Homo sapiens: one gene and its partners. The protein of the gene in region 2 interacts with the protein of the main gene of each other region in a biochemical or structural test. Each region holds a gene or a part of one and is shown on either strand. Other genes may lie near its edges. The genes, in order: POLR2M, DAPK1, SCEL, JHY, SPATS2, SLAIN2 and SNURF.

The links.
Region 1: the proteins of DAPK1 (region 2) and POLR2M form a complex in vitro, tested with the Homo sapiens proteins (one large-scale study listed by BioGRID and IntAct).
Region 3: the proteins of DAPK1 (region 2) and SCEL form a complex in vitro, tested with the Homo sapiens proteins (one large-scale study listed by BioGRID and IntAct).
Region 4: the proteins of DAPK1 (region 2) and JHY form a complex in vitro, tested with the Homo sapiens proteins (one large-scale study listed by BioGRID and IntAct).
Region 5: the proteins of DAPK1 (region 2) and SPATS2 form a complex in vitro, tested with the Homo sapiens proteins (one large-scale study listed by BioGRID and IntAct).
Region 6: the proteins of DAPK1 (region 2) and SLAIN2 form a complex in vitro, tested with the Homo sapiens proteins (one large-scale study listed by BioGRID and IntAct).
Region 7: the proteins of DAPK1 (region 2) and SNURF form a complex in vitro, tested with the Homo sapiens proteins (one large-scale study listed by BioGRID and IntAct).

What each region holds. Positions count from the first base shown.
Region 1 is NC_000015.10:57,709,548-57,713,811, reverse strand, and holds part of POLR2M (protein GRINL1A), read right to left. Parts: intron 1,829-4,264; coding exon 1,624-1,828; intron 1-1,623. Other genes in the region: GCOM1 (GRINL1A combined protein), read right to left, coding at 1,624-1,828.
Region 2 is NC_000009.12:87,504,144-87,508,407, reverse strand, and holds part of DAPK1 (death-associated protein kinase 1), read right to left. Parts: intron 1-4,264. UniProt on the Homo sapiens protein: Calcium/calmodulin-dependent serine/threonine kinase involved in multiple cellular signaling pathways that trigger cell survival, apoptosis, and autophagy.
Region 3 is NC_000013.11:77,537,942-77,542,205, forward strand, and holds part of SCEL (sciellin), read left to right. Parts: intron 1-4,264. UniProt on the Homo sapiens protein: May function in the assembly or regulation of proteins in the cornified envelope. The LIM domain may be involved in homotypic or heterotypic associations and may function to localize sciellin to the cornified envelope.
Region 4 is NC_000011.10:122,902,848-122,907,111, reverse strand, and holds part of JHY (jhy protein homolog), read right to left. Parts: intron 3,188-4,264; coding exon 2,668-3,187; intron 1,941-2,667; coding exon of another isoform or gene 1,881-1,940; exon of another isoform or gene 1,202-1,880; intron 1-1,201. UniProt on the Homo sapiens protein: Required for the normal development of cilia in brain ependymal cells lining the ventricular surfaces.
Region 5 is NC_000012.12:49,489,166-49,493,429, forward strand, and holds part of SPATS2 (spermatogenesis-associated serine-rich protein 2), read left to right. Parts: intron 1-299; coding exon 300-408; intron 409-1,516; coding exon 1,517-1,566; intron 1,567-4,264.
Region 6 is NC_000004.12:48,382,575-48,386,838, forward strand, and holds part of SLAIN2 (SLAIN motif-containing protein 2), read left to right. Parts: coding exon 1-353; intron 354-1,072; coding exon 1,073-1,210; intron 1,211-4,264.
Region 7 is NC_000015.10:24,957,223-24,961,486, reverse strand, and holds part of SNURF (SNURF protein), read right to left. Parts: intron 2,750-4,264; exon of another isoform or gene 2,619-2,749; intron 2,163-2,618; exon of another isoform or gene 2,022-2,162; intron 1-2,021.

The DNA of each region.
Region 1 (4,264 bases), on a different chromosome or scaffold from region 2:
ATGCTGTCTAGATTTCTACAACTGACAGGACCTTCTTCCCTAATTACAATCATGACTTCCAGACTTGGGAATTACATTTCAATGGCAAAATGAAAATCAAGAAATTAATACTAAAAAGCTGACTATTCCTCTCCAAATAAAGTCCTACAGCAACTAGTATCCAATAAAAAGTCCAAGTAAATTTCAGACACTGGCAATGTACTTAAAAACTCCCAAGGACTTTACCACCAACTGATGGTAGGTGGCAATGTCATTCCTAATTCAGTTCTTCCCTTTTCTCATGCTTTCTTGAACTTCTTGATGTCCTCCTCTTCAAGCCATGAATATGGGTCAGTAAAAGTGGGAGCTATTACCACTACAACTTCTCTGCTAAAAAAAAACAATTTAAAGATGAAGGGTTTAATTCAACCTAAAAATATCTTAGGACAGGCATTTAAGAGCTCAGAGACAGTAAACACTTCCTCAATGCTACAGCCATAACTAGACAGTCATTTTAATGCACTGAAAGAAAAATGGTTTTTTTCAAAAAGAGCACCTTGATAATGCCAATCCATGCCAAGGCTTTTATGAAAAGCCAAAGCAGATTAACAGCCTGTTTTGTTGTTTTTTTTTTTGAGACAGGGTCTCACTCTGTCACCCAGGCTATACAGAGTGCAGTGGTGTGACTGCGGCTCACTGCAGCCTCGACCTCCTGAGCTCAAGCAATCCTCCTACCTCAGCCCCACAGGTAGCTGGAACCACAGTTGCATGCCCCAATGCCCGGCTAATTTTTTGGTAAAGATGGAGTCTAGCTATGTTGCCCACGCTGGTCTCGAACTCCTGAACAGTCTGGTGTTATACTAGTTGGTGCACTAGTACCTGACTAAAATCTAGCTAATCAATACCTAGGAAGTGAGACAGGATACTGTTCTCCTGGAGGCTAAAATTATTACTAAATACTTCTAAACTTTTCTGTTCCCCTATGGTCCTTCACACTTATTTTCTCCCATCCCATTATTCTGTATACAAACTCTCAACATACATGTTTGAAGTTCAATGCAAAACACATGGAAACAAAGTGCTATGCAAAATTGATTAAGCTGCCAAAAGCAGGAGATATTTCTCTCTTCACATGGGCCTGCAGATTATGCTCTAAAGCAGTGTCTCACTGTCTGCTGGCTACACAACATTATCCTCCCACTCCTTCTATGCCCTCCCCTGTACTGCAGAAGATGGAAGCCTGGGAACTACATTCTCCTCATTCTCTAACAAGGGGTCTGGGTTTGAGTCCGCCACTGAGAAGCTGTCACATGAGTTTTACAAGGTGAAAGGGAGAGATGCGATGCTACTACTATCCTAACAGGAACAGGCAGGTAAATGAGCTTTAAGACATGAAATTCTACAAGTCTCCCCACATCTCCAGGCAAATCACCACTTTAATGTTGAAGGTAGCTGTGATCATCTCTAGCTACTTCCTGCAGTTCTAGCAACTTTGTGACTCTCTGAAAACTAGTGGCATAGATCTGAGCTCATGGAAGCACCTAATCCCCTCTATTCCATTCCTTCCTCCTTGAACCTGGAGTAAATTCTAGCTTATGTAAGCAGCACCCAACAAACAGACAAGAAAAAAAATACTCTAAATACCTCATAATTCTGTTTCTGCTGTTTCTGAAGTGCCAAGGATTCTTCTATGGAGAGCAGCTGCGTGGGCATATGGTGAAGTGGTAGAAGCCGAGCTGCTGTGATGTCATCAAGATGCTGCTTATCCCTGCGCCGCCGCTCTTCTGAGGAAATAGGAGACCCACTCTTCTGGCAATGACTAGATGAATCATTTTGTCGAAAAGGTAACCTGATGAAAGGAAAACTTGTGTTATACAATCAGATTATTTTATTTGTAGACACATTTAAAACATTCACACAAATGGCCTTTACCTTAGCAATTAATTCTCCTCCAAAGGTAACAGTAAGTAATTTACCAGTATTCATTGCTCTAACAAATAGGGGTGTGTTTGTGTGCATACAGGCTCTTTGCCTTTTCCTTCCTTATTCAAACCTTGTATTTCATCTGGAGTTTTTTTTTTTTTTTTCATTTATTCAAAGAACATTTGCAAAAGGGCTTATTGCCCAGTAGAAAGAAATACACATGTAAAGTTTCAGTGCAATACAATACCAGAGATACTGTGATAGATATCTCAACAAGATACATTGGAACATAAGGAAATGGCCAGTTCTAGTGGGAGACAGGGAGGCTAAGAAAAGTTTCAAAAAAGCTTTGAACAGTCTTGGAATAATAACTGCTTACCCATGTAAATAAGGAGAGAAGTGCATCCCAGCAAGGGGAGTGAGAGAAAGTACAGAAGGTAGACAGACTCAGCTTTTCTGGCTACACAGAAAAGACAGCGAGAAAGAGGGCTGGGAAGTAGCCTAGGCCCAGACTGCAATGAAGAGTTCTCCGTAACAAGTTCGGATTTCCATCTTACAAATTTCACTCTGGCAGCAGTGGAGATAGACTGGTAGTTAAGACTAGAGGTAGAAGGGGCCACAATTACAGCCCGAGAGAGATGAGAGTCTTCACTTCGACAGAAGATGAAGAACAATTATAGAGATGAAGATCAAAGAAATAAGTAGGTCTTCATGGCTAGCAGATATGGAGATGAGAAAAATCGAAGATACCTTAGGGGAAGAAAACCGAGAAGGTGGTGGCACTATTAGGGAATATGGAAATCACCTTGGAAAGAAACTGCAGTTCCACTTTGTACATCATTAAGCTGAGGTACCTGGGAACACCCAAGTGATCAAGTTTCATGGTTAATTGGCTATGCAAACCTAAAGTTCTGGGAAGATCTGGGATAGAGGTGCACAGGGGTCAGCCTCCAGCATCCAGGTGATACATGAAGCCAGAAGAGTATGCAGAAGGAAGAGCAGAAAGGACCCAAAGGACACTACCTGACCCCACCTTCCAACCTCCAAGCCACCTCTCACACGGAACCCTCTCAATCCCTACCTGTCTATGGCCTAAGGACTCCTCAAAGCCCTGCCTTTCCTGTTCTCCTCTAACTTATACAGGAGGCTCCCTGTCTCTTAAACTTCCTGAATTCTTGGTAGCCCTCTTCACTATTCCCTTACCTCTCTCCCACTCCCAGCTAAATGACCATAATACAGAACTGGGATTAATGTATTCTTTGTTTTATTTATTGACTAGATGATGGTTCTAGTTTTCTAAAATGTCATCCTGGAAGTGAAGAAAGATACCCCACTGTACACAAGAGAGTACTTGATCACGTTAATGTAGTATAATCCTGATTTTCTATACAGCAGAAATAAAATGTTTTGAGGTTAAAATGAATGCTGGGGTAGAATTAAAGTCTAACAAAAAAGAAGCATGTTTTAGATACTTTTCACTAGAGGTTTTCTGTTTTTCAAAGAAAGGTAGTAGTGATTTAACTTTGATGTTACATACTTGTAAATACAATATAGGAAGAAGGTACCAGTTACCTGAGTTGAATGTTACATTTGCTGCAAGTAAATAGCAATTATTTTCAAAAAGATTTTACTTTTCCTGAAATTTCAGAAACAAATTTATGGCAAGGAACTGATAAGCAGAGTTTTTGCCTATCCTGCCTGAATCTATTTTCACAGTTTTTCAAACCTCTTCTCAGCTTCCTTCCCCCTGAAACTGTTATTATTATGTAGCTTAACTCTTTTCCAAGTGTGTAAACCTTGGGTCCTCATGTAGCTCTTAAACTCCTTGAAGAACATGGTATTGTATTACATTACACATGTATACATTACAGCCATGTTTTTAAACTTGAGATTTAACATCAAAAAAGGCAAAGGAGTTTTAAGAATCTTGACTTAATTGTGTCCCCACAACACCTGCTGCTTGCTTACATACAGTGAGCATGCAAATAATTTCTGCTGGAAAGCCCATCAGCTCCTGCAATTGCTTTACCCTTAGTTCACAGACTAATCAAAGAGAGTACACTTTGATAGTACACTAATCAAAGCTGTACACTAAAAAATGGTTCTGAAAAAAAGAAGTCATAATAAATTCTCTCCAACTCTGTGTTTATTATGAAATACTGGCTAAGCATCCTAAAATTTAACACTCCCCCATGTGCTTTAAAAGACCTTGTCGATTATTTGGTTTCAAAACTAAATATTTTTCAACATGAATCTTCTACTCCGGCCAGGCTGGTCTCAGTGTTGCCACAACATGTTATTTCCTAACTACAAGTAGTTCTCATACAAAGCCCACGGAACTTAGAGCATTCTCCTGACTTAT
Region 2 (4,264 bases):
TCGCGCCACTGCACTCCAGCCTGGGCGACAAAGCAAGACTCCGTTTAAAAAAAAAAAAAAATCCTGACAATCTTTCTAAGGTGAAAAGGAAAAGTTGGACCAGTGCGGCGACTCACACCTGTAATCCCAGTACTTTGGGAGACCGAGGAGGGCAGATCACCTGAGGTCAGGAGTTCCAGATCAGCCTGGCCATCATGGTGAAACCCCGTCTCTACTAAAAACACAAAAATTAGCCGGGCGTCGTGGCGGGTGCCTGTAGTCCCAGCTACTCAGGAGGCTGAGGCAGGAGAATCACTTGACTCAGGAGGCAGAGGTTGCAGCGAGCCAAGAGCATGCCACTGCACTCTAGTCTGGGTGACAGAGCGACACTCCGTCTCCAAAAAAAGGGAAAAGTTTATACAGTTTCAAAAGTAAAAGCAATGAACTAAGACATAACTATTCAACAATGAAAAGTAGTTCATTTTTGTAGGTGAAAATTTATAATATCAACTGCACTTAAAATATTTGCCAGCCAGCCTCATTCATCACATATTTCCTAAATAAGAATAATCAGGCAGTTTTGACAGAAAAATAAAATGTGTCCCAAAAGAAGTCCGTACCTCGAGCCAAATTTCCCAGCCAAAACCCATCAGGCTTATGAATATAAGTGCCATCAATATAAACTTTTCACACTTCAGAGATCGGCAGTTTACAAGCATTCATTTGCTCAAACATTATGTTCTTCGTCCAAAGTTGTATGTGTTTATAAAGGGAAAAAAAAAATCAACAACATTCTCCCAACCTCCTTCCCTCCCCTCCCCACCACTCTGGCATCTCTAATTATATGTTAGGTTACTGAATAAAATTTTTCAAGCTCACAACTGAAACATCGAAAGGTAGTACATAAGGTAAAAGCCCCGTGAACACCAGATGCGGTGGCTCATGCCTGTAATCCCAACACTTTGGGAGGCTGAGGCGAGCAGATCACCTGAGGTCAGGAGTTCAAGACCAGCCAGACTAACATGGAGAAATCCTCTAAAAATACAAAATTAGCCAGGCGTGGTGGTGCATGCCTGTAATCCCAGCTACTTGGGAGGCTGAGGCAGGAGAATCGCTTGAACCCAGGAGGCGGAGGTTGCAGTGAGCCGAGATAGCGCCATTGCATTCCAGCCAGGGCAACAAGAGCGAAATTCCGTCTCAAAAAAAAGGCCCCATGATCACTTCTCAGAAGTAAGCAACATTATACTTCAATGACCACAGTGTGATCCATATGCCACACCAGCTGTCAATGTCACCTAAAGACCAAAGTGACAAACCCGCGTCACTATTGGACCACGCTTGTCAGGTATCTCCAGAGATTAGTTACTATCACATGATTGTTTTGTTTTGTTTTGGATTGGGACAGAAGATAAAACACAACTATTTTAGGTTTTAGATTTTTTATTTGTAAAAACCCACCCAGCACATTAACTCTAGAGCTGGGATACAACTGTACTTACCTAAGAAAGATTTAATAGTTAGAGAAAGTTAGTTTAAATCCATTTTAGTTAGATGATGTGGAAAATCGGAGTGTCAACTTCTTTTTTCTTCCACCTTCTTCTAACTGCACCTTTAAAAAAATTCGTTTATAATAGAATGTACCCAAAGTCATACACTGAATTTATTATAATTGTACTGTCATATAACCTCTTTCAAGGCCGAGAAAGGATGCATTCCATTTGTATAATTTACCCCAACAAACCAGAACAAAACAATTAAATATTATCTTCCACATAAAGTCTCAAACAATCACACACCAACTCTAAGCTAGCCAGACTAGTTGTTGCGTAAGGAAATGAGAAACTGTTGGTCAGTGGCAGGTAGGTGCACGGGTCAGAGACAAGACTCTTAGACATTACATAACTCAAAAGTTAAATAACAATGAAAGTGTTTTTGGAGTTTTCTAAAAAGGTAAACCATTAACTTGGGACTTGAATAAAACTACGCCACATGTTGACATCATTCCAAACTGCAAGGCTGAAGCCATTTGGAAAAGGAAAGAAGGTCCCAGTGTGTCGTTAAGGCCTGCGAAAGTTCTGAGCTCAAAGGGCAGACCCTGTTGCCTTTGGCTGGGCTTCAAATGAAAACCTTCCATGAAGGGTCTACTATTTATCCCTAACCATTTTCTCCATGCAGATGCTGAAATAAATTGGCGCCAAATGGCTGCCTACTTCACCTCTCTTAAATATCAACTTCATCTGGCTTTCAAAGATGGAAAACTGCCAAATCCTAAATAGCACAGATAATGAAATAGGCCTGGCCCTGGGTTCTGGGTCCATGTCTTGCCACCTTTTAATCAGCTGCCTGGAGAAAGCCACTTGACCTGTCTAAACACAGGTGGATAAAATGTGAAGGGAGGCAATGCTGGTCACTCAGCCTTCTTCCAGGTCAAAGTCCCGGCCAGGCACAGCGAGAGGCTGACGCTTATAATCCCAGCACTTTGGGAGGCCGAGACGGGCGGATCACTTGAGGTCAGGAGTTCAAGACCAGCCTAGCCAACATGGCGAAACCCCACCTCTACTAAAAATAAAAAAATTAGCCAGGTATGGTGATGCATGCCTATAATTCCAGCTATTTGGAGGCTGAGACAGAGAATCACTTGAACTGGGGAGGCAGAGGTTGCAGTGAGCCAAGATCGCCCCACTGCACTCTAGCCTGGGCAACAGAGCAAGACTTCGTCTCCAAAAATGCAAAAGGCCAGGCACAGTGATTCATGCCTGTAATCCCAGCACTTCGGGAGGCCGAGGAGGGTGACTCACGAGGTCAGGAGTTCAAGACCAGCCTGGCCAAGATGGTGAAACCCCGTCTCTACTAAAAATACAAAAAATAAGCCAGGCACGGTGGCAGGCGCCTGTAATCCCAGCTACTTGGGAGGCTGAGGCAGGAGAATCACTTGAACCCAGAGGGCGGAGGTTGCAGTGAGCCGAGATCACGCCACTACACTCTAGCCTGGGCAACAGAGTGAGACTCCGTCTCAAAAAAACAAAACAAAATCAAACAAACAAAAAGACACAAACAAACAAAGTCCCTGAGCTCTCTGGGGTACTCTTCCCCAATGGAAACCACTCCCCTCTTGTCAGAAGAGTGGCTTCCTTTGTCTCATAATCAGAAATAAATTTCTACTAAAATAATATTCACTTAATTTATACAAAATGTTAGGTACTCATGGCAGTTGGCTAGAATGAAGGATGAAAGTTCCTAACACATTTCCCTGCTGAGTCAGGCAATGTGACCTTGACCATGCCACTCCCAGATATCAGATATCCAGCAGCTCAGCCCCTCACCCCTAATCATCTGGAAAGAAGTGGTCTGGATTACAACTCTGCTAGGAGGGAAGAGAACAAGGTGGAAGAGCCAATGTTGCCTCTCCTGATATAACACCTGTATACAACTACAGTCAGCCCTCTGGATCTGTGGGTTCTGCATCCATGGATTCAACCAACCTTGTACCAAAAATATTCAGGAAAAAACTGCATCTGTACTGAACATATACAGACTTTTTTTTCTGGTTATTATTCCCTAAACATTATAATGCTACTATTTAGTTAGCATTTACATTGTACTAAGTATTGTAAGTAATCTAGAGATGATTTAAGATATATGGGAAGATTACATCAGTTATATGCAAATACTATGCCATTTTATATAAGGGACTTCAGCATTTGTGGATTCTGGTGTCCCCAGAGGTCCTGGAACTAATCCGCCATGGATACCGAGGGATGAGTGCACTGGAATTTATCTGGACATCCATCTCTGTAGGTTTCTTATGAGTTTTTCATGGCTTTGCAGAGGCATATACCAATGATATGGGGCCTTCAGTTTCCTCATTGGCCGGGGAGACACAAGCTGAGGGTAAAAGAGCATGGGGGACCAAGAAGTGAGCTTCCATGTTCCCTGGCTTCCCGACCAATAAGCACCTCCACCTACTCTGTTCCTGGCCCCCTTGAACCTAAATTTGATGCCTGCCCTAGTAATCCAGCAACACACTCCCAGTGCCAGCAAGCAAGCATTCAACCAAACTGCCACTTACTAACACCATCATGCTTTCCCTTCACATCCTGGAAAATTATTATTAGACCTTCCTAAAATGTACACACTTTTAAAATCACTAACCGTTGCCTTTAATCTATGTAGCTGAACTTTATCTCTCTTAAAACTTTGGACCCTTTCCTATCAGAGGAAACATCTGAGAGCATTCTGAGTCAAAAATGCTAAGAGGAAAAATGTCACATTCAGCACAGTCCTA
Region 3 (4,264 bases), on a different chromosome or scaffold from region 2:
GGGAAATCTTTATTGGTTCCATATGGCTTCGCTTTCTGTCATTGTCCTGCTTCTAGACCATTTGTTGATCATTTTCCATTTTCTTTGGCTGGGTACTTTGAAATAAAGATTTTAGGTATTAATTGCTGCATACATAGCTGGAGTTGTTCAAAGCTCACTTCTGAATCAAAAGTCTTTTTTTTTTTTTTTTTTTTAAATGGAGTCTCGCTCTTTTCCCCAGTCTGGAGTGCGATGGCACAATCTCGGGTTACTGCAGCCTCCGCCTCCCATGTTCCAGCGATTCTCCTGCCTCAGCTTCCTGAGTAGCTGGGAGTACACGTGTGCACCACCACACCCGACTAATTTTTCTATTTTTAGTATAGACGGGGTTTCACCATGTTGGCCAGGCTGGTCTTGAACTCCTGACCTCAAGTGATGTACCCGCCTTGGTCTCCCAAAGTGCTGGGATTACAGGCATAGCCAATGCGCCCGGCCTTAATCAAAAGTCTTTATCAGTTATATTCCTTAAGTGTTTCCAGCTTACCATTGTACAAATGGTAAACTGTGATTTTTTTCCATGAACTTGTGATTTTGAAGCTCGGGAGAAGCTCTTCCTCACATGGATGCTTTGCCAAATGACAGCTACACGTACTAGACTTTCATTTCATGTCGATTACTAAATTTTTTAAGGACATGAGTCATCCTTTTATTGTGATACTTAATTGGAACAGTGAATTTTATAGCTACCTATTCAATGACAACTGGTTTACTTCTAGATACAAGAACTGATCATCCTGAATCCTCCTTGTAATAGTATACTTGATAGCTCTAAAAATCTGAATAATTTATTCTTTGTCTGTAGACCCAAGTTTCCCTGACTCTAAAATGTGATTACGTATCCTTCATATGAAGCCTCCTGGGGAAAGACAGTGAACTATAAGCCATATTTTCCAAACTGAGATATATACATCCCAGGAGACTGTGTCAATGTTCTAGAAAATGCAATAAAATTATGAAATAAGCATGGCACATGTCTGTATGGAGAGCTAATTTTAGTTAAAAAGCTTTGGAGAAAACTATCCCTATTGCCCTGCCCTCTCCCCAGTTCTCCCCAGGGTTCCCTCTTTTGTCATTAGAGATGCTGTGTGTAAAAGTTTAAAAGAAATTTATATACAAATGCATGCAGTGAGCTGAAATCTAGATAGACTTGAATTTGAACCATGATTCCATGTGGACAAACGGTGACATGTATGAGTATGCCTAACTCACAGCACCAGCAGATAAAAAGAAAAATTAGGATTCTTGATGAATAATTAATAGACATATAAAATTATGTAATTATATATTATATACATATTTTATAATATACATAGCATATTACATAATGGGACATATATGTATAAAATATGACTCACAATAGCACAAAAATATAAAAATCTAGAAAAAATCTCTACAAGAAAAATTTAAAATCTAGATTTAAAAAATAACAACATTTTATAGTAAGACATAAAGGTGAAAGCGGACCTTAAATGTCAGTTCTTCCCAAACTCTTTTTATAGAATCTATGCAATTTTAGTCAAAAGTTCCAATAGAATATTTATCTTGGAAACTTAGAAAATAATTTTTTTTTTTTTTGAGACAGAGTCTCGCTCTTTCACCCAGGCTGGACTGCAGTGGCTCTATCTCGGCTCACTGCAAGCTCCGCCTCCCGGGTTCACATCATTCTGCCTCAGCCTCCCGAATAGCTGGGACTACAGGCGCCCACCACCACGCCCAGCTGATTTTTTGTATTTTTAGTAGAGATGAGGTTTCACAGTGTTAGCCAGGATGGTCTCGATCTCCTGATCACGTGGTCTGCCCGCCTCTGCCTCCCAAAGTGCTGGGATTACAGGCGTGAGCCACTGCGCCTGGCTGAAACTTAGACAATAATTTTAAAGTTATCTGAAAGAAAGGAATAAATGAGAATAGCTGATAGAATTTCTAAAAAGGAAGTTAATGAAGGGTGCTGTGCTACTAGATATTAAAAATGTATGTATCAGAAAAACACAATAATAAAAGTAGCTTGTTTTTATTGTAAGAAACTAAAGACAGTTTTCTTGAGGAAAACGGATAGCCACAAAGCACATTTAAGAATATGTAAGAATTTAAAGTGTGACAAAGGACGTATCATATATCAACGAGAAAGGGATTTATTCTCCCATTACCAAAGTAAATCCACATGGATTAGAGAGATTACATAAAACAACAAAATATATTGTAAAAATTAAAAGAAAAATAAATATTTAGTTAACCTCATGTTTGTTCAACAAATATTCCTCTAGAACTGATTATGTACCAGGTACTGTGATAAGTTTTGAAAATCAGCTGTGGAGAAGATGGGCTTGGCCACTGCTCTTAAGATGTACAATGTGTGAATGTGTGCGGGTGTGAGTATGTGTGTATACTTGTGGGTTGGGGGTGGGGGAAGATTATTCAGCCATACACACAGTCTTAGGTGATGTTATGGAAACTCTTTGCTATTTGAACACATAGTAGGGCTCATAACTCAGCCTGGGGAGGAAGGAGTGGGGCAAGTGGCGATGGTATCACAGAGTGATTCCTGGAGGATATAGAATGTGTGATCTGGAAGGTGAATGGAAGTCTTTCCTGAAGGAAAATGAGGGGTTGAGGGAAGTTCAGGAAGAAGAGTGTTTCAGGCATAGATAGAATAAGCAATAGCTCACAGGTGATGAAAAGGATGGAGCCCCAGGCACTGGAAGGAGTTGCTGTGGCTGAAGCCAGAGTGTGAGTGGGAAGTGGGGAGTTGGGGGAAATGAGGCTGGAGGGTATGGCCTTGTCAGCCTTGTTATCAGTTCGATTTTATCCTGACAGAAAGGGAACACCCTTGAACGACTTTAAGTAGGTGATGACTACTTTGGCACCAGTGAGGAGGAGAGTGGATTAAGTGAGGAAGTCTGGAGATTGAGAATGTAGCTGGGAAGCCGTTGGAATAGTCAGGAGATTATGGTAGTTTGAATTGGTGTCTTGCAAATAGAAAGATACACAAGAGATGTTGAATTATAGGACTTGACGATTGCTTGGATTTCAAGGTCAGAAAGAAGATTGATGGATGGTCTACAAAGATGGCTTTTAAAGAGTGAAAGTGGAAGAAATTATAAAGGGAAAAATAGGGAATGCAAAATCAAAAGCTTCTGATACAAAATTTATAATTAGAAGCTAAATGAAAAACTAGTAAAGATGAATGTTCCTGACATATAAAGAAAATGAGAAATCAGTAAGAAATATATAATAATTGTCAATGGATAATTTATAAAATAAGAAAGAAAATGCCCTGTAAAGTGAAGAAAAATATGCGAGTAAAACAAAATGATTCTACTTTCACCTATTATATTATTAAAAAGATTAATGAATGATAATTCTAAATGCTGGCAAATGAGTGAACACTCATATGTTGCTGGTGGATGATAAACTACTATAAGATTTACGGAAAGAAACTCGACAATAGGGATCAAGAATATTTTAGAAATTATACATCTTGGCAAGTAATTTCACTTCTCGGATTCATTCAAAGAAAATAATCAGATACTTGGTGAAAGACTTTTGTATGGTTTTTTAGAAACAACAGAGGAATGATGTTACATTGATAAATAAAATGAGATATTTTGTAGCTGCAAAATAAATATTTAAATATTCTTAAATGGCATTGGAAAATGCATATCAGTAGGCTCTAAATGGGCAAAGAAAAACCCTGGAAGAAAATTACAGTGATTGATTAAAGGTGTCTGATTTTTTTTTCCTTTCTTTATGCTTTCTTGTATTTTCCACATTTTATATATGCTTTCTTGTATTTCCACATATGTTCTAAATATAGTGAGAAAGATTTATGTTGTGTAAAATTGGGATACAGAACAGCTACATGACAGAGCTTTTGTGAATATGAAATACAGTAAAGTATTTAAGATAACTAACAGGGTTTTGGCTCATAGTCTGTGGTCAAAATTTGAGTTTTTACTCATTTAACTTGTATTTTCAGCTAGAACTGAAAATAGCCCCTGATGGGGCTCAGGTGATAGATAACTTTTATTGGATAGCTTTTTTATTAATGAATATTAGACCAGTGTTTTTTGTAAAATGAAATAATTATAGGCCACTATTCATGTTAAAGCTTGCTGTTATCATTCTGCAGAAAAGATGGGCTGTAAGAAAAAGAGCTGGTGAGGGTTGTGTATTAAAAACCAGAATCAGGCCGAGGCAGGCGGATCACGAGGTCAGGAGTTAGAGACCA
Region 4 (4,264 bases), on a different chromosome or scaffold from region 2:
GGTGTCTAAGGCAAGAGGATCACTTGAGCCCAGGAGTTCAAGGCTGCAGTGTGTGATGATCGAATCCTGCATAGCAACTACACTCCAGCAACATAGCAAGATCCCGTCTCAAAAAAATAATAGGAGTCATCTCTTAAAAAAATAATAGGAGCAAGAAGAAGTACATATATATTGGAAAATGGTAAAGGAACAATTTTAAATACAATTAGCCTTTAGATATTTGAACTTGGAGAAAGTGGTGGGAAAAGTCAATGGCCCCTTCAGAGAGTAATATAAGAGCTTAAAGAAAGTTTCCTCCATGGCACAAAGAAAAGAAAATTCAGCTGTGGAATCACTGACAATCAATACACCCTAAAATTGTTTAGTAAATTAACTTATAACTACTAACAAAAATAGCGATTAATAAATCAACAATTAAAGAGTTCATAATAAATATTTTTCCCTTTTATTATTGGAAATAAAACTATTTCTTTTGACCTCAGACTAAAAAGAGAGTTTCTGAATGAAGAAAACCCCCAAATGTTCTCCTTCCGGATCAGCTTCTTTTGAGAACACTTTTTAATAATGAAAAATATTGTCCTAGTTTGAGATAAATTACTGGCTATAAACATTTTTCAGGCTGGGCATGGTGACTCATGCCTGTAATCCCAACACTTTGGGAGCCAAGGTAGAAGGATCATTTGAGCCCAGGAGTCTGAGGTCAGCCTGGGCAACATGATGAGACCCCCATCTCTATAAAGACATTTAAAAACAAATTTAGCTAGATGTGGTGGTGCATGCCTGTGTTCCCAGCTACTCGCCGAGGCTGAGGCAGGAGGATTGCTTGAGCCCAGGAGGTCGAGGTTATAGTGAGCTATGATCGTGCGATTGCATTCCAGCTTGGGTGAAAGGCCAGACCCTGACTCAAAAGAAATTTTTTTTCAAAGATATTGGACTGTTGAATTTATTTTCATTTTTAAATGAGCAATCAAGCAAAATTCAAAATTTCATGTAAGTTTTATGGAACAAGAGTATACTAACATCTAAAATTGGGTAAAAATACTAAAAACTGCTTGAATTCACCTAGTTTTTTAAATACTTCAGCTATATATACTACACCTATTTCATTTAATTATTAGTTACAGTGGCAAAGATGTGACATAATTCTTTTTTTGAATTTTATTTATTTTTATTTTTAAATTAAAATATTTTTAGGCCCAAATTTCACCAGACATCATTCTTTTTTTATTTTTATTTATTTATTTTGAGACAGAGTCTCACTCTATAACCCAGGCTGGAGTGTAGTGGCGCCATCTCGGCTCACTGCAACCTCTGCCTCCCGTGTTCAAGCGATTCTTGTGCCTCAGCCTCCCGAGTAGCTGGGATTACAGGTGTGCATCACCACACCCGGCTAATTTTTGTATTTTTGGTATAGATGGGTTTCACCATGTTGGCCAGGCTGGTCTTGAACTCGTGGCCTCAAGTGATCCTCCCACCTCGACCTCCCAAAGTGCTGGGATTACAGGCATGAGCCAACGTGCCACCAGACGTAATTCTTTAAGACAAAAAAGGGAGTCTCTGAAGAAAAGCCACAAATGTTCATCCACCTCATCTATTTTGTTCCATTAGAAAATGCTTAGAGGTTAGAACAGGTTAGAATATGTTAAAAAAAAATACCAGTTGGGATTTGGAATAGGTCTAAGGGCAACCACATTTAACATAATAACCTCTCCTTTGTATTTGAAAATGACCTCACATTAGCAGGTGATAAATCTCAAGCTCTTTCCAGTAAGAGTGGTGGACTCTACCATTCTAACCCCACTCTTGTCCTGTATCCCTGGACATGTCCATAGGAGGTGGGCAGGAAGGTCTTTATGTGCACCTGTGAAATGGAACTAAGTTTACTGGCTCCAAAAGGTTTTGAATCCATCACGTGGGAGAGAATTTACTCTCAAAATGACCTGATGAGGAAGAGAAGGCATTTATTACTGTCCCAATTTTACAAATAAAGAGACTAATGTTTAATCATATCATATCATTTACACAGGACAATAACAAATGATGTGATTTTCAATGGGGTTTATAGAAACATCTGAAGATTGAAAAAAAAAACCCACCTTATGTTGTACCCTACCCACTCCCCGACCGCCCAATATGTATACAGAATCTGAGTTGAGAATCGCTTCTGTATGTGAGCTGGGGCATGTTCCATGTCACCCACAATGTGCTGGGGCATTTAACAGGGTTGAAAACCTCTGCTATGGTGGTAACAAAGGAAATCAACACAGGGAATCAAATGCTTAAGTTCTATATTTTATCATTTGGAAAACACAGTTTTAAAAAGTTCCAGATTTCTTTGAATGGAGAATTTCGGATATAATAACTGACATAACAATGGACTTATAATTACTTATAGCAATTATAGCAATTTTGGATATAATAATTGACTTATAGCAATAATCGACTTGTAGCAATTACACTGTAAACCATTGGTGGCTTTTATTTTGGTCATAAGAATTTATGGAATAAACATAAACATACAGGATAGCCTATGGAAGCGTTTGTTTTACCCAGCTAGGTGGCTGCTATGACATCGTCATCTTAAAGGAAGCGATATCTAGACACTGCAAACAAACGCAAATTCTGGTTTAATGTTTCAGAAGACATTTTAAAGTAGCCACTACGTACCTGTTCTGGATGAGATTCCCCTCTTTTTTTATTGTGAAGTTGAAGATAAGAGTCCGTTTTCGGGGTGGGTAATCCCAAAGTGAGCTTGTTTTTTTCCACAAAATGTTGTTTGGATTTCCTTCGCCGAGGGCCACGTGATCCCGGCAGGAAAACCTCGTTATGTGAACTTGAGCTCTTCACGTACGGAGAAAGGCTGCTCGACTTCTCCTCCAGGTCACTGTCGCTCAGCTCTGAAAACGGCTTGCTGCGACGGGCACCATGCTCATAGTTTGGGCTTAAAAATTCACTACCAAGTAAAGAAGCTGCACTCTGTGGACTCTCTTTCTGCTCGCCTTTTCCCCCGGAGAGTTCCATTGACGTCTCCTGGGAAGGGTAGAGGGGAGCCAAAGGCAGATTTTCTAAAGAGCTGTCCGTGGACTCCGGCAACGCTTCCACAGACAGCAGCTGCCCTTCCTCCTTCTTACTCTTCCAGTTCGGGTCATAGCGGAGGTCTGAATATTTGTCTTCTATTGGTTGTTGCCTGCCCAAAGCAGAAGAGAAATGCCAAGTCCTTAGTTGAAATAAATTCACTCATTATAGTCAGTTGAACATTTTATTTGAAATCAATCTCAGTCTTTCTCCTATAGTTTTCCTTTTATTATCTGTATGCTAAACACAAATCCCAGCAGCGTGCAGTGGCTCATACCTGTAATCCCAACACTTTGGGAAGCCGAGGCAGGAGGATCGCTTGAAGCAAGGAGTTCAAAACCAGCCTGGGCAACACAGCGAGACTCCATCTTTACAACAAATTTTTTTAAAAAATTAGCTGGGTATGGTGTCGTACCTGTAGTCCCAGCTACTCAGGAGGCTGAGGTGGGAGGATTGCTTGAGCTAAGGAGTTAGAGGCTACAGTGAGCTATAATCACGACACTGCACTCCAGCCTGGGAGACAGCGTGAGACCTTGTCTCTTAAAATAAATAAATTAATTGATTAATAAACATAAAGACAGATCCCAGGCCCAAATTAGACCCACACACTACACATAAGGGCGAAAGGCCTTAATTATCCAAGTTCATTGAAATATGGAATAAAAATGGGGGACAATTAATTTCTAAGTGTCAGAAGACAACTGAAAAACAGATATCTATAATGTTAAACAAATAATCACTGTGGTTCAATGAATGCGATTACTTACGTACACCAACAATGACTCAGTATTTCAGCTGGTGAAGATAAAACTATGTTTCACACTTTGGCTGGTAATACATTTCATACACTGACTAACAATGTTCTGGTCAAGGACAAGCCACATATACGACTGAGGTCCTACAATATTGTAATGGAGCTGAAAAATTCCTGTCACCTAGTGACGCTGTAGCCCTTGGAATATCATAGTACAATGTGTTGCTCATATGTTTGTGGTGCTGCTGGTATAAACAAACCTACTGCACTGCCAGTCCTATAAAAGTATAGCACACACAATTATATACAGCATATAATCCTTGATAATGATAATCAACAACTATGTTACTGACTTTTGTATTTACTGTATGATATGGTTTGGATCTGTGTCCCCACCCAAATCTCATGTCGAACTGTAATCCCCAATGTTGGAGG
Region 5 (4,264 bases), on a different chromosome or scaffold from region 2:
CCACATTAATACCTGATACCGAAATTAAACCACCTTTTCTTTATATGAAATCTAGCATATAACTTCTATTTCTAGCAATGTTCTGCATTTCTAAGTTTTGAAATTAATTTTTCACATGCTGTTATCACTCATCTATTAATCATTCCCAGTGAGATGCTTGTATGTACTGTCACTGACACTAAAGAGTGATACATATTGTTAAAAATGAAATATCACTCTTTTCATTATTCTCTGTATAGGCCTCAGCTGCCTAGTGACCTACTAATGTTAGAATTAAATGACCCTGTCATCTTTTCCAGATAAATGCGGTACGTGCAATAGTTCCTAATAAGAGCAACAATGAAATTATCCTGGTTTTGCAGCACTTTGATAACTGTGTGGACAAAACAGTACAAGCATTCATGGAAGGTAATCCTGACTTAATTTTAAAAATAAATTTATATTTGCTCAAATAGAATTTGCTTCAGACTTTTATAACATTCAGCAATCCAGTGATTCATAGATGATAGAGCAGACCCCATGAAAACATAACATACCATGACATTTGACGATACCTCTTTCAGCTGAAATAAGCTATGTGGTGTCTATAATAAGAGATAAGCTGAGAAAACTCCATTGTTTCACGCTAAATGTTCTCTAATGGTATTTAAGAGGAAATCATGTGGCCAGTGGTATAAGGGACTTGATTGGACTTGGGTTGAATAAGAATTTAAGAGACTCTTAATAACAAAGCAGTGATTCAGTGGCTCACCAACAGATGGCAAATTCAAGGACTCAGTATTGTCTTCCGGATTCTAATATCGTTAGTTTGGCTGTGGCAAGTGACTCAAATGTGTGGGTTTGAATTTCCTTATCTAATACGTAGAAGAATGGCAGGCTTAGTCAACCCTTCAGATTTATAACATTGAGAAGTGTTTTATGAACCTTCCTTCCATGTAACCTGTTGGAGAAAAACTATCTGAAGCTATTGCGTCTTTGAATAGCAACATGAGGTTAGGTCTCCCTGTTTTTATTTTCCTGAATCTGCCAACATAGGATGCACAAGTTTGAATGTTGTAAAGTTTTTCTTTATCTTCATCTTTTTAAAAAATAATGTTAGTGTTTTGGTCTAGGGTAATGTGCAGCTGTCTCCAAAACAACATAGCCAAGGTGGGTGTGTAACTGGAGGGGAAAGGATGGCACACTTGGCTAAAACCAGTGTGCCATCCCCTTTGTATTTGGTCTAAGATGTATGGATAAGAGAATCTTCAAAATGGCCCAGCTACATTAGTCTCTTCTTAGAAGAACTTACTGAGGAAATTACTCGGAGAGGAGGGGTCTAAGTAGGCAGGTATTCCAAAAGGGAAGCATGGCATGATTATCTCATTACATTACTTTAGACCTGATCCTTAACTTTAACTTTTCTGTTAGGAGCTTTGTAAATTCTCCAGCAATTACAAAATGGGAGGACACTGACTCCTGCTTGACTACTGTGTGTGTGGTAGGAGACAAAATCTGTAATTGGTTTCTCTTACAGGTAGTGCCAGTGAAGTACTCAAAGAATGGACAGTAACAGGCAAGAAAAAGGTAAAATGAATTACATTTAAAAGCATGATGATGTGTATATTATTTTTAAAAATTTAGGCTCTGCAAAAATATTTGAAAGAAAAGGTTCACATACATATCTTCTGTTTACCTGGTTAAAAAACATCTTTGGCCAGGTGCAGGGGCTCACACCTGTAATCCCAGCACTTTAGGAGGCCAAGGCAGGTGGATCACTTGAGGTCAGTGGTTCAAGACTAGCCCGGCCAACATGGTGAAGTCCCGTCTCTACTAAAAAATAGAAAAAATTAGCCAGGTGTGGTGGCACGTGCCTGTAATCCCAGTTACTCAGGAGGGTGAGGCAGGAGAATAACTTGAACCCAAGAGGCAGAGGTTGCAGTGAGCCGAGATTGGGCCACTGCATTCCAGCCTGGGTGACAGAGTGAGACTCCATCTCAAAAAAAAAAAAAAAATTCTTCGACCTTGAAACATAGCTGTGTCTCACAGAGTACCACACAGTCCTCTCCGTGTGATTTAAGGCAGGAAACAGAATGACTTTGCCATGGTGCAGTTATTAGACGGGTGAAAAAGACAGCAAATCAAGGAAAGCAAGAGAAAGCGATCTAATTGAGTGGTTTTCAACCATATTCATACCATAAATCAGTTAAAACAGTTCAGATTTTTGGTCGGGCAACTGGGTTGTAGTCCTGATATTAATGAGCTTTGACATAAAGCTGTTAGGTGCTGGCCAGGCACGGTGACTCATGCCTGTAATCCCAGCACTTTGGGAGGCTGAGGTGGGAGGATCACTTGCGCCCAGGAGTTCAAGTCTGGGCAACATGATGAAACCTGATCTCAAAAAAAAGGCTATTAGGTGCCTTGCAGAGGGGTCTGATGTTCCACTTTGAGAGGTAGAAAGCACTCAGGCTATGGGATCAGTCAGAACTGGATTCCTACCCTGTTCCACTATCTACTGGCATTGTGACTGATATTGCTTAACATTTGTGCCTTAGTTTGCTCATCTCTAAAATAGAAAAATAGTTCTAATAAATACAAATACATAATACAACGCCTAACATATTAGTTCTCGTTCCTTTCTCCTTATTTACTTAAAATCAGATGCTTTTCCCAAAGGATACCAGCTGGTCTCAAAATTCTTCCCACAGCTCTGCACTGTAAAGGTAACCCCTTTAGGAAATGCTTGAAGTATGGATTTTAATCAAGTATCTCTGTGAAATCTGTTTGGGGTGTTCTTTTCTTTATTAAGTCAGTGCTGGAGTTCTGAAATGCTTTCATCATGACTCTTACATCACTTTTTAGGAGTCCTGTCAGGTCTTGAACAAAAACCAGGCTTGGCCTCAGTGACGCTTGAGAATTTTTTCCAAGGGTTACCTAATACTACACAGATTCTTCTGAAGCTCTTCATACCTGTAGTTTTGAATATTTGTTTAACTTCTTCCTGCTGCTTTCAACCTGTTACATAGATAACTGTGAGTGTCCTGGAAAACACCAGTTTCTTTTTTTTCTTTTTTCTTTTTTTTTTTTCTTTTTGAGATGGAGTTTTGCTCTGTCGCCCAGGCTGGAGTGCCGTGGCGCGATCTCGGCTCACTGCAGCCTCCGCCTCCTGGGTTCAAGTAATTCTCATGCCTCAGCCTCCTACGTAGGGCGGGACTACAGGTGCGTGCCACTGCGCCTGGCTAATATTTGTATTTTTTAGTAGAGACAGGGTTTCACCATGTTGGCTAGGCTGGTGTCGAACGCCTGACCCCAAGTGATCTGCGCACCTTGGCCTCCCAAAGTGCTGGAATTACAGGCATGAGCCACTGCACCCAGCTAACACCAGTTTCTTAATTTATTAGCCCAGGATTATAAGTTACTAGTGATATAAGATGTGCATGGACCTGGAAGAGGATGTGTGTTAGAGACACAGACATTCCTTAAAATTTGGAGAAAGAAATATGACTTCAGTTTAGCAGTCCCAAATGCACAAATCCAGTCCAGTCCACTTAACTGTTGGGATTAGTCCAATAGGATGTGACTCTGAGTGGGATAGTTATGATATACATGACCCAATGATATGAAAACTTAGCCAGTTCACATGGGGGAAAGTAAGAAAAAGAAAGATGAGGCCGGGCACGGTGGTTCATGCCTGTAATTCCAGCATTTTGGGAGGTCGAGGCAGGTGGATCACTGGAGGTCAGGGGATTGAGACCAGCCTGGCCAACATGGTGAAACCCTATCTCTACTAAAAATACAAAAAAATTAGCTGGGTGTGGTGGCACATGCCTGTAATCCCAGCTACTCGGGAGGCCAAGTCAGGAGAATTGCTTGAACCTGGGAGGTGGAGGTTGCAGTGAGCCGAGATTGCACCATTGCACTCCAGCCTGGGCAACAAGAGCGAAACTCCGTCTTTAAAAAAAAAAAAAAAAAAGAAAGAAAGAAAGATGAGAGCTGTTAAGGCAAAAAGTTTATCTAGAGTTCAATCATGTTTCTGCTGGAGAGGGTCACAGAAAGGACTTGGGGAAAAATTGATTCAGTTATTATCAGCCTAGCCTTAGGAATAGAATTAGGTGTTGCCAGTGGAGCTACGAGTTTGACAAAACAAAAGGTAAAGGACTTTTGTTTGTTTATTTTAACTTTACTATTTGCCTATGCAATATACTCACATGGCTCAAAATTCAAAAGTACAAGAGTTAATACACTGAAACATCTTTTTTTTTTTTTTTTTAATTTGAGATGGAGT
Region 6 (4,264 bases), on a different chromosome or scaffold from region 2:
GCAAGAATATGCAGCCACCACGTCTCGGCGCAGTTCTGGTTCATCTTGCAATTCTACAAGACGGGGTACTTTTAGTGATCAGGAACTTGATGCACAAAGTTTAGATGATGAAGATGACAATATGCATCATGCAGTATACCCTGCTGTTAACAGGTTTTCACCATCACCACGCAATTCACCTCGACCGTCACCTAAGCAGTCACCCAGAAATTCACCTCGTTCACGATCTCCTGCTCGGGGAATAGAATATAGTAGAGTGTCCCCACAGCCTATGATTAGCCGCTTACAGCAACCTCGCCTTTCACTTCAAGGCCATCCCACAGATTTACAGACAAGCAATGTTAAAAATGAAGGTAAAATAGCAGATTTTACTAATAATTAGACAGTTTCTGCTAGCCTGTGTAACATAGCAAGACCCCGTCTCTAGGAAAAAAATTTTCAAAATTAGCTGGGCATGGTGGTGCACATCTATAGTCCTAGTGACTTGAGAGGCTGAGGCTGGAGGATTGGTTGAGCCCAGGAGTTCAAAGCTACAGTGAGCTGTGATCACACCATTACACTCCAGTCTGGGCAACAGAGCAGGATCCTGTTTTCAAAAAAAAAAAAAAAAAAAAAGTTTCTAGATTAAAAAAAGAGAAAAAGTGTCCTTTATATTTCACTATGAAAGTAATACAATTTTTGCTAAGTTTTTGTATTTCAGATAAGTAAATCAAGAGTGTAGTCAGGTTTACTATTTTATTAATAGTGAATCATTACAAAAATAAAAGAGAAAGTGAATTTCATTTTACTTGGTTATGTTGTTTTTGCTTTATTGTTTTATGAAGTTACCTGTATTTAGATTTTGCTTTAAATATAAAATTTGTGGTTATCTTTAAGTGTTCTCTTATTCTACCCACTTAACAGATCCTAGATCGAGTTGTTTGTTTTTTTTAATAAGACAAGTCCTTTGTATTTTCTCATCTAAAATAAACAGAATGTTTGATAAACAATTTGATTTTTGAATGCTAGTTAATATTTTAATTTTCTCCATCTGAAAGAATATGATTTTTTTAAAATTAAAATTCTGTTGCAGAAAAACTAAGACGCAGTCTTCCAAACCTGTCCCGAACATCTAATACACAAGTTGACTCAGTGAAAAGCAGCAGAAGTGACTCAAATTTTCAAGTGCCAAACGGAGGAATACCTCGTATGCAACCTCAGGCTTCAGCCAGTAAGTATCCTTCTTATGCTTTCATGTATCAGTTATTTAAAGAGAAGTGAAAATTTTAGATATTTGTTTTATGCTGAAAAACCGTTTTTTATGCTGAAAAACCGTTTTAAACCATAGCTATAGTAAAATTTAGTGTTTATTAGTTGCTGGATGATAATCAAAGTTATATTACAATTTAAAATTTTCTATGTAGGATACTTGATTCTGCCAGTACATCTGTCTATACAAAACTCTGGTCTCTCCAGAATTTTAAAATAAGCAAAATGTAACTATTAAAAAAGTAGGTGTAGCTTTTGCTTATAGATACTAGAATTAGAAATAAAAACCAGTAGAGCATCCAAAAATATATGTCCCTTAGTACGTAAATTTTCTTTAATAACCTCCACTTTAAAAATACCTAAAAGTTTGATTATTACATAATTTTAGAATCATACTCAAAATAATCCATTGTTCAAACCTGCAATATATTAAATCTGTTATCAAAGTTGAATTGTTGAAGTTCTTTTCTTTCCAAAACAAAAGTATACCAGGAGAACTCTTGGATGATCTCATTTTATTTCTGCATCTGTTGAGATAAGATTTCTGGTTTTGATTTGATTTTCTGTGTTTGTTAAGGCTATTTTAATGAAAAAATACAATATTGAATCAATATGTATGCCAAATTAATTCATAGTCCTAATCCTACTTATAGATTAAAATTTGAGATAAATTGCCAGAAACCATCACTTTTTAAGAATTGATCAGGACTTGTCTCTTTAAATTATCTTTCAGAAAACAAATTCTTAGAGTTAAAGCTAAACTCTTAAACAGAGAAGGTGAATTTTAGAAGTATAGTAGAAAGAACACATGTAGATTATAATTTTTAATAAGTTTTGGTCATTGGGTGGTTACTAACCCATGAATGTGACAGTATTTGTATTCAACTATTATTTGTAATAGATACTTGAGTTTTTATTTTGTGGCAAGTAGTATGTTAAATCAATACAGGCATTTCTACTATAGCACAAAATATGCACTCCTTAAAAACCTCACATTCTGCAGTATTACACAATAAAAATGATAGGATGATGAGGAGTGGAGGGAATAGTCCTGGAACAGACCACTGAAAACCCAAGCAACTTTCTTAGAAAGCATTAATAAAAACAATAATGATACTAGCACAGTTAAATTCATGTTAAATCTTTATTAAATACTCCAGGAGATATAGAACTTCATTTTTAAAGAAAGATTTGAAGGTAATGTGATGGAAAGGAAAGGTTGAGACTGTTGAATTAAGGAAACATATGCAGCATAGACGAAGATCAGAGAGAATCATACAGTAAGATCATCTAGGACAAAATAGCCAAACTGAGCCAAGAAGTAGTGATGTTGGAGTAAATGGGCATTGTGTATATTAATGTACAAGTTGATTTTAAAGGAATTTCAAAAAATTACTTTTTAGCTAGGATAGATTTGAGCGTGTAGTCAAAACGGTTTTAAATAAATGATTACAGTTATTTTTATGATCTTATGAACGCTCAGTATTCATCCCATGTGTTTCACAGCTCACATCAGTCCCGTATATGAGCTCTGAGACACAAAGGGTGCATATTCACTGGGGTCCTTGTAGGGACACAAGGGATGCTTATTCACTCAGATCCTTGTAGGTACACAATGGATGCATATTGTCTCAGATCCTTGTGGCATATTACTATCAGTGGTTGAAGTGGTAGCTGTGTTATATTCTTTCATTTTCTCAAGGCTATGAAGAAGTGATACAAACGAGTTTGTTGACTGTTCACTTATAACTTGTTTATTAAGCAGTTAAAAATTTGAAGATATTTAACCCTTTTTTCATTTTCATCTTTTTTTTTCTTTTTTTTTTGATTGAGTCAGGGTTTCACTCTGTCACCAGGCTGGAGTGCAGTGGCACAATCATGGCTCACTGCGGCCTCACCTTCCTGGGCTCAAGTGATCCTCCTGCGTAGCTGGGACCACAGGCGTGCACCACCATGCCCAGCTAATTTAATTTCTTCACACTTTTCCTTGGCCCTGTTGTGTTTAGCTGACTTCATATACTTCATGTTAAGCTGTTGTTACTTAGTGGCTCAAAAATCAACAGGCTAGCAGGAGTTTGAGACCAGCCTGAGCAACACAAGACCTCGTCTCTAAAAAAATGTTTTTTTTTTTTTAATTACCCAGGCATGATGGTCACATGCCTATAGTCCCAGCTACTTAAGAGGCTGAGGTGGGAGGATTGCTTGAGCCCAGGAGTTTGAAGCTGCTGTGAGCCATGATCATGCTGCTGCACTCCAGTCTATTGAAAGAAAAAAAAAAAAAAAAAAAGCTACGAAAAAACTATATTTGAATCAAAATGACTTCTGTGATATATTGACAAATTTTCCTTATTTACAAGGTGCATATGATATTACTTATATAACAAATTTATATTATACTGTATTTAGATGCATAATCTTATTTAATCCTTAGAACAATTCTATGAAGGAGGTACGATTATTACCACATTTTACAGATTAGAAATTGAAGCTTTGAATGGCCAAATAACCTATCTCTGATTATACAGCTTATAAGCGGCAAGTTAGAATTTAAACCCATGTTGATTCATCTTGAGCACTGGATCTCAATAGGTGAGAGTCCAAATTCACCTAGTGAGAGTTGTCACATCTATGGTTTAGACCATGATATAAAACTTATCCAGAAATATAATTTCCATTTTTCCTAAGATTTAAAATTCTAACGTTTAAAGCACTGTAGAAAATTGGTACCCAGAGATTTGTAAACCACATTTATTCAGCTAGATATATGCTAAAACCTGTTTTTATAGCAAATTACATTTTAAACTTAGTACTCCAAGTCTTATTGTGAACTCTGTAACTGAGAGTGCCATTATAATACTCACTGTAGTACTAATAAATAGTATAGAAAACAGGAATTCACAAAACACTTGAAAGGAAGGATAGAATTTGAGCTTTATCTTTGAAATCGTGAGTGATACAGATTAATTTGACACTTGAGAATATCCTGTTTCTGGCTTCTTTTTTCCCCTGACACATT
Region 7 (4,264 bases), on a different chromosome or scaffold from region 2:
AAATCCCACACCAGACTAGCCATATTAGGGACTGCAGAAACCACCTATGAACCTTTAAAGATGATAAATCAGAAAGGTCAGCAGGACCTTTCACTAAAGTAACACAAGTAATATCTCAAAAGCAAAATTCAAAGATACATGCCAAAAGCTATTAATAATTCTCTGAACCCTAGATGTTTTTAAGTCATGTTAGACTTTTAGATTGGTAAAATAGCTTACCAATAACGCACAGCTGTTTTATTCTTTCAAGAGTTTAAATGTTCTAATCAAGCCATACACACATATTTGATTTCTAAATGGTAAAATTTTATACACTGATAATGTTTATTACTTTTGATTACACAATGGTCTATTAAATATAACACCTGAATTACAAGCAGTATAAAAAATAAAGTGGACTTCATCAAAAAATAAAGTTCCGAAAACACTAAAGAAAGTGAAAGGATAACCAGAATAGGAAAAAATATTTGCTTAACATACAGCTAAGTTTCTAGTATCCAAAACAAACAAAAAGAAAATCCAAACAATGAAAAAAAAGAAGGTAGGGAGAGGCAAAGAAACTTTTTCAGGTGACAGACACATTTATGCCACTAATTTTGATAAGAATGATTTCAAAGGCATGTACTTATCTCTTAGCATATCAACTTTTAACATTAACTATCTACAGCTTTTGTATGTCACTCACACCTCAAAAAAGTATTTTTTCAAGTTTGGTATCCAGAATATGTAAGGAACTCTCACAACTCAACAATAAAAGGGCAAATTCTATTGCTACGATGGGTAAAACACTTGAATAGACAGTCCTCCAAACACATACAAGTGGCTAATCTATATGAAATGATGCTGAACATTAGTCACTAAAAAATGCAAATCAAAATCCCAATGAGGCAGGGCGCAATGGTTCATGGAAGGCTGAGGCCAGCGATCACTTGAGCTCAGGAGACCAGCTTGGGCAACATCTATACAAAAAAATACAAAAATTAGCTGGGTGTGGTGGTGCATGCCTGTGGTACCAGCTACTCAGGAGGCTAAGGTGAGAGGGCGCTTGAGCCTAGGAGGCAGAGGTTGCAGTGACCTGAGATCATGCCACTGGCACACCAGCCTGGGTGACAGAGCCAGACCCTGCCTCAAAATGAAAAAACCCCCACTGAAATGCCACCATCTGACACCACAATATTTGTAAAGGATGTGGGGAAACTGCTGGTGGAAACATAAAGTGTTATATATAGACTTTGCCAACTTCCTAAAAATGTTAATCATGAAAGTAACATATGACACTAACTCTACTGCTAGATGAAGTAATATTACAAGACCCAAACTCAGCCTCCAAAGTAGCTGGGATTACAGGCATGCACCACCACACCCAGCTAATTTTTGTATTTATAGTAGAGACAGGGTTTCACCATGTTGGCCAGGCTGATGTCGAGCTCCTGCCCTCAGGTGATCTACCCACCTCGGCCTCCCAAAGTGCTGGGATTACAGGCATGAGCCACCATGCCCAGACAGTTCATGTTCTTTCTATTATACCTGCAGCCTTCCCAGCTACCACTACTCTCATACTTCCAAAAAGACAAAATTTCAAGAACCTGGCATATACGAGGGCTAAGTAAAACCTTGTGAAACTAATTCTTTGTATTAAACGTATTATACGTGTTCCTAGTAGCATTATTCATAATAGCCAAAGAGTGGAAACAACTCAAATGTCCATCAACTTACGAATGAAGAAAATATGATATATCCAAACGAATGTCTTTCAGCCATAAAAAGGAATTTAGTACTGATCAGTGCTACATTATGGTGGGCACACAAATACAGCTAATAATGTAGTACCTTAATATAATACAATTAAAGAAACTATCAACTAAACCATGATTAATCTAATAGTGTACAACTGCAAACACTGTCTTACCAAAAAACAAAAAGAACCCATTCGGCAGTTGCTCAATATGAAAGGTCTGAGGTCAACTGAGGAAATAGCCATCAAACCAAAATATTCTATTATTTCAACTTTCTGAATTTACCTTTTTTTAAATGTAGAGACGGGGTCTCAATACCCAAGCTTGAACTCCCAGGCTCCAGTGATCCTTCTGCCTTGGCCTCCAAAAGTGCTGGGACTATAGACATGAGCCACCGCACCTGGCTTAAATCTACTTATTTTTAATCTACATATAAAATGTCATCTATAAGATTTTGAAAACACTACTTTATTGAATGTTCTAGATACACACACACATGCATTTATCTAACTGCATCCCCAACACAGAAACCAACATTTTATGAAACTGAGGACATCATGAAAAAATCATCATATAGAAAGGGTGTTAAATGTTTGCCCTCAGATCACTTACACTGAAAGTAATAATCCGGAAATATATTGAAAAGCAAAAAGCAATGGAATCCCAATTTTATTACGGCCTAAATTTTCCATAAAATTTAACTAAGATCTCAAGAATAAAAATAAACAAAGTTGGCCAGGTATAGCGGCTCATGGCTGCAATGCCAGCACTTTGGGAGGCCTAGGCAGGGGCACTGCTTGAGTCCAGGAGTTCGAGACCAGTCTGGGCAACATAAGGAGACCCCTCTCTACAAAAAAATAAAAAGTTAGCTGGGCACAGTACCTCAAGCCTGTACTAACAGGCACTTGGGAGGCTGAGGCAGGAGTCTAGATTGATCCAGGAGTTTGAGGTTACAGGGAGCTATAACTGCATCACTGCACTCCAACCTGGGCAACATAGCCAGACCCTGTCTCCTAAAAACAAAAAAATAAGGTTAATGATAGGCTGCTAATCTGTACCCCATGAATATAAGAAACCTCATTGCCTCCAAAACAAATCTGAGGAGAATTAACAAAAAGAGAATTTGGGCCAGCCACAGTGGCCAGAGAGAGACTGAGGAGGGAGAGGATATAGCTTGAGTCTAGCAGTTCGAGTTCAGCCTGGACAACATAGGGAGACCCTGGTCTATTTAAAAAAAAAAAAAAAAAAAAAAAAAAAAAAAAAACTTTGAGCCAGCTAGCATCCAGAAATGGAGAGAGGCTACCTTAAGTAGTAACAATTCTCACTCAAGCTTTCTGGCCCTGGGCCACAAAAAAAAAAAAAAAGGAGACAGGACCAGTGACAGGTCTAAATAAGATTTTTAAAACTTCATTGTCCAAGTAATTGAGGGCAGTACTCACAACCTGCTTAAATGATTCTTCCTAAAAAATAGCTAAACAGAGGGCGCTGATAAACAAAGGAGGTTATCTTGGCATCCTTGACACCTTATAAACAAAATTTTTTGTAAAACAAAGATGTTTATTAGGAAAAGGAACAGGGTAAGGGAAACATAAAGATACAGAGTAACTATAAATGTGGAAAACATTTCGGCAATGACACACTGGTCAGATAGAATAGTGAAATCAAGATAAGGCAAGGTCTGTGAATAAATCCAAATCAGTTAGTACCCTGCCTTAGACAACAACATAAGGGTCTCTCAACCAAGCTTCCTTCCTCTGCATCACAGGAAGGGCTGCCACTCCCTGCCTCCAAAAAGCCCTAGCACAGAGCCAATTCACTGAGTAGGACACAGACCTTGAAACTTCAAGAGGCCTTTCCAAAGGGATCTGCCATATTAGGATCCCGGGCCTGAATGCAAGACTACAAAATGGCGGATCAGACTAAATACTCAGCTTGCAAATAGCCAAATGACCAGAAGTTAAACCAAGAAATATATGTATGTGAACTGCTATCTTCATGCAAGCAGAAAAAAAAGGGTAAATTATAAATATCATATAAAATCCCAGACTCCTGCTATTTTTAAAACTACCCAAAAATAGATTATTCCAGAACAAGGCTTTTCGGGCTTCGTAGATTTAACTTTTCTGTTAATTACAACTCAGTGCAACCAGACATACCAGTTATGATAGAGGGAAAATGTAAATACAGAAAAGGCAAGCACTGAAAATCCTGCAAAGGAAGACAAAATCCTTAGAATAAAATGATTTTTTAAAAAAGTACTGGAATATAAAAATGCAGTTATTCATTAACCTTTCTCACCAAATTTTTGTAGTAGCTCCAACTTCAAAAATGATCATTAATTTAAAAATCCAAAAAAAGACAGTAACTGATCCAAAGCACAACCCCACCCCAATAAGATTGTCTCCACTTTTCTCTTTTATTCTCTTTGAGCACAAAACTTGCAGCTTTCAACTCCCAGAAGATGAAGAGGTCCAGTGTTTGAAACACCTTTCAACCTTAGTCGGGAAGAGCCATCACGATGTCCTCTC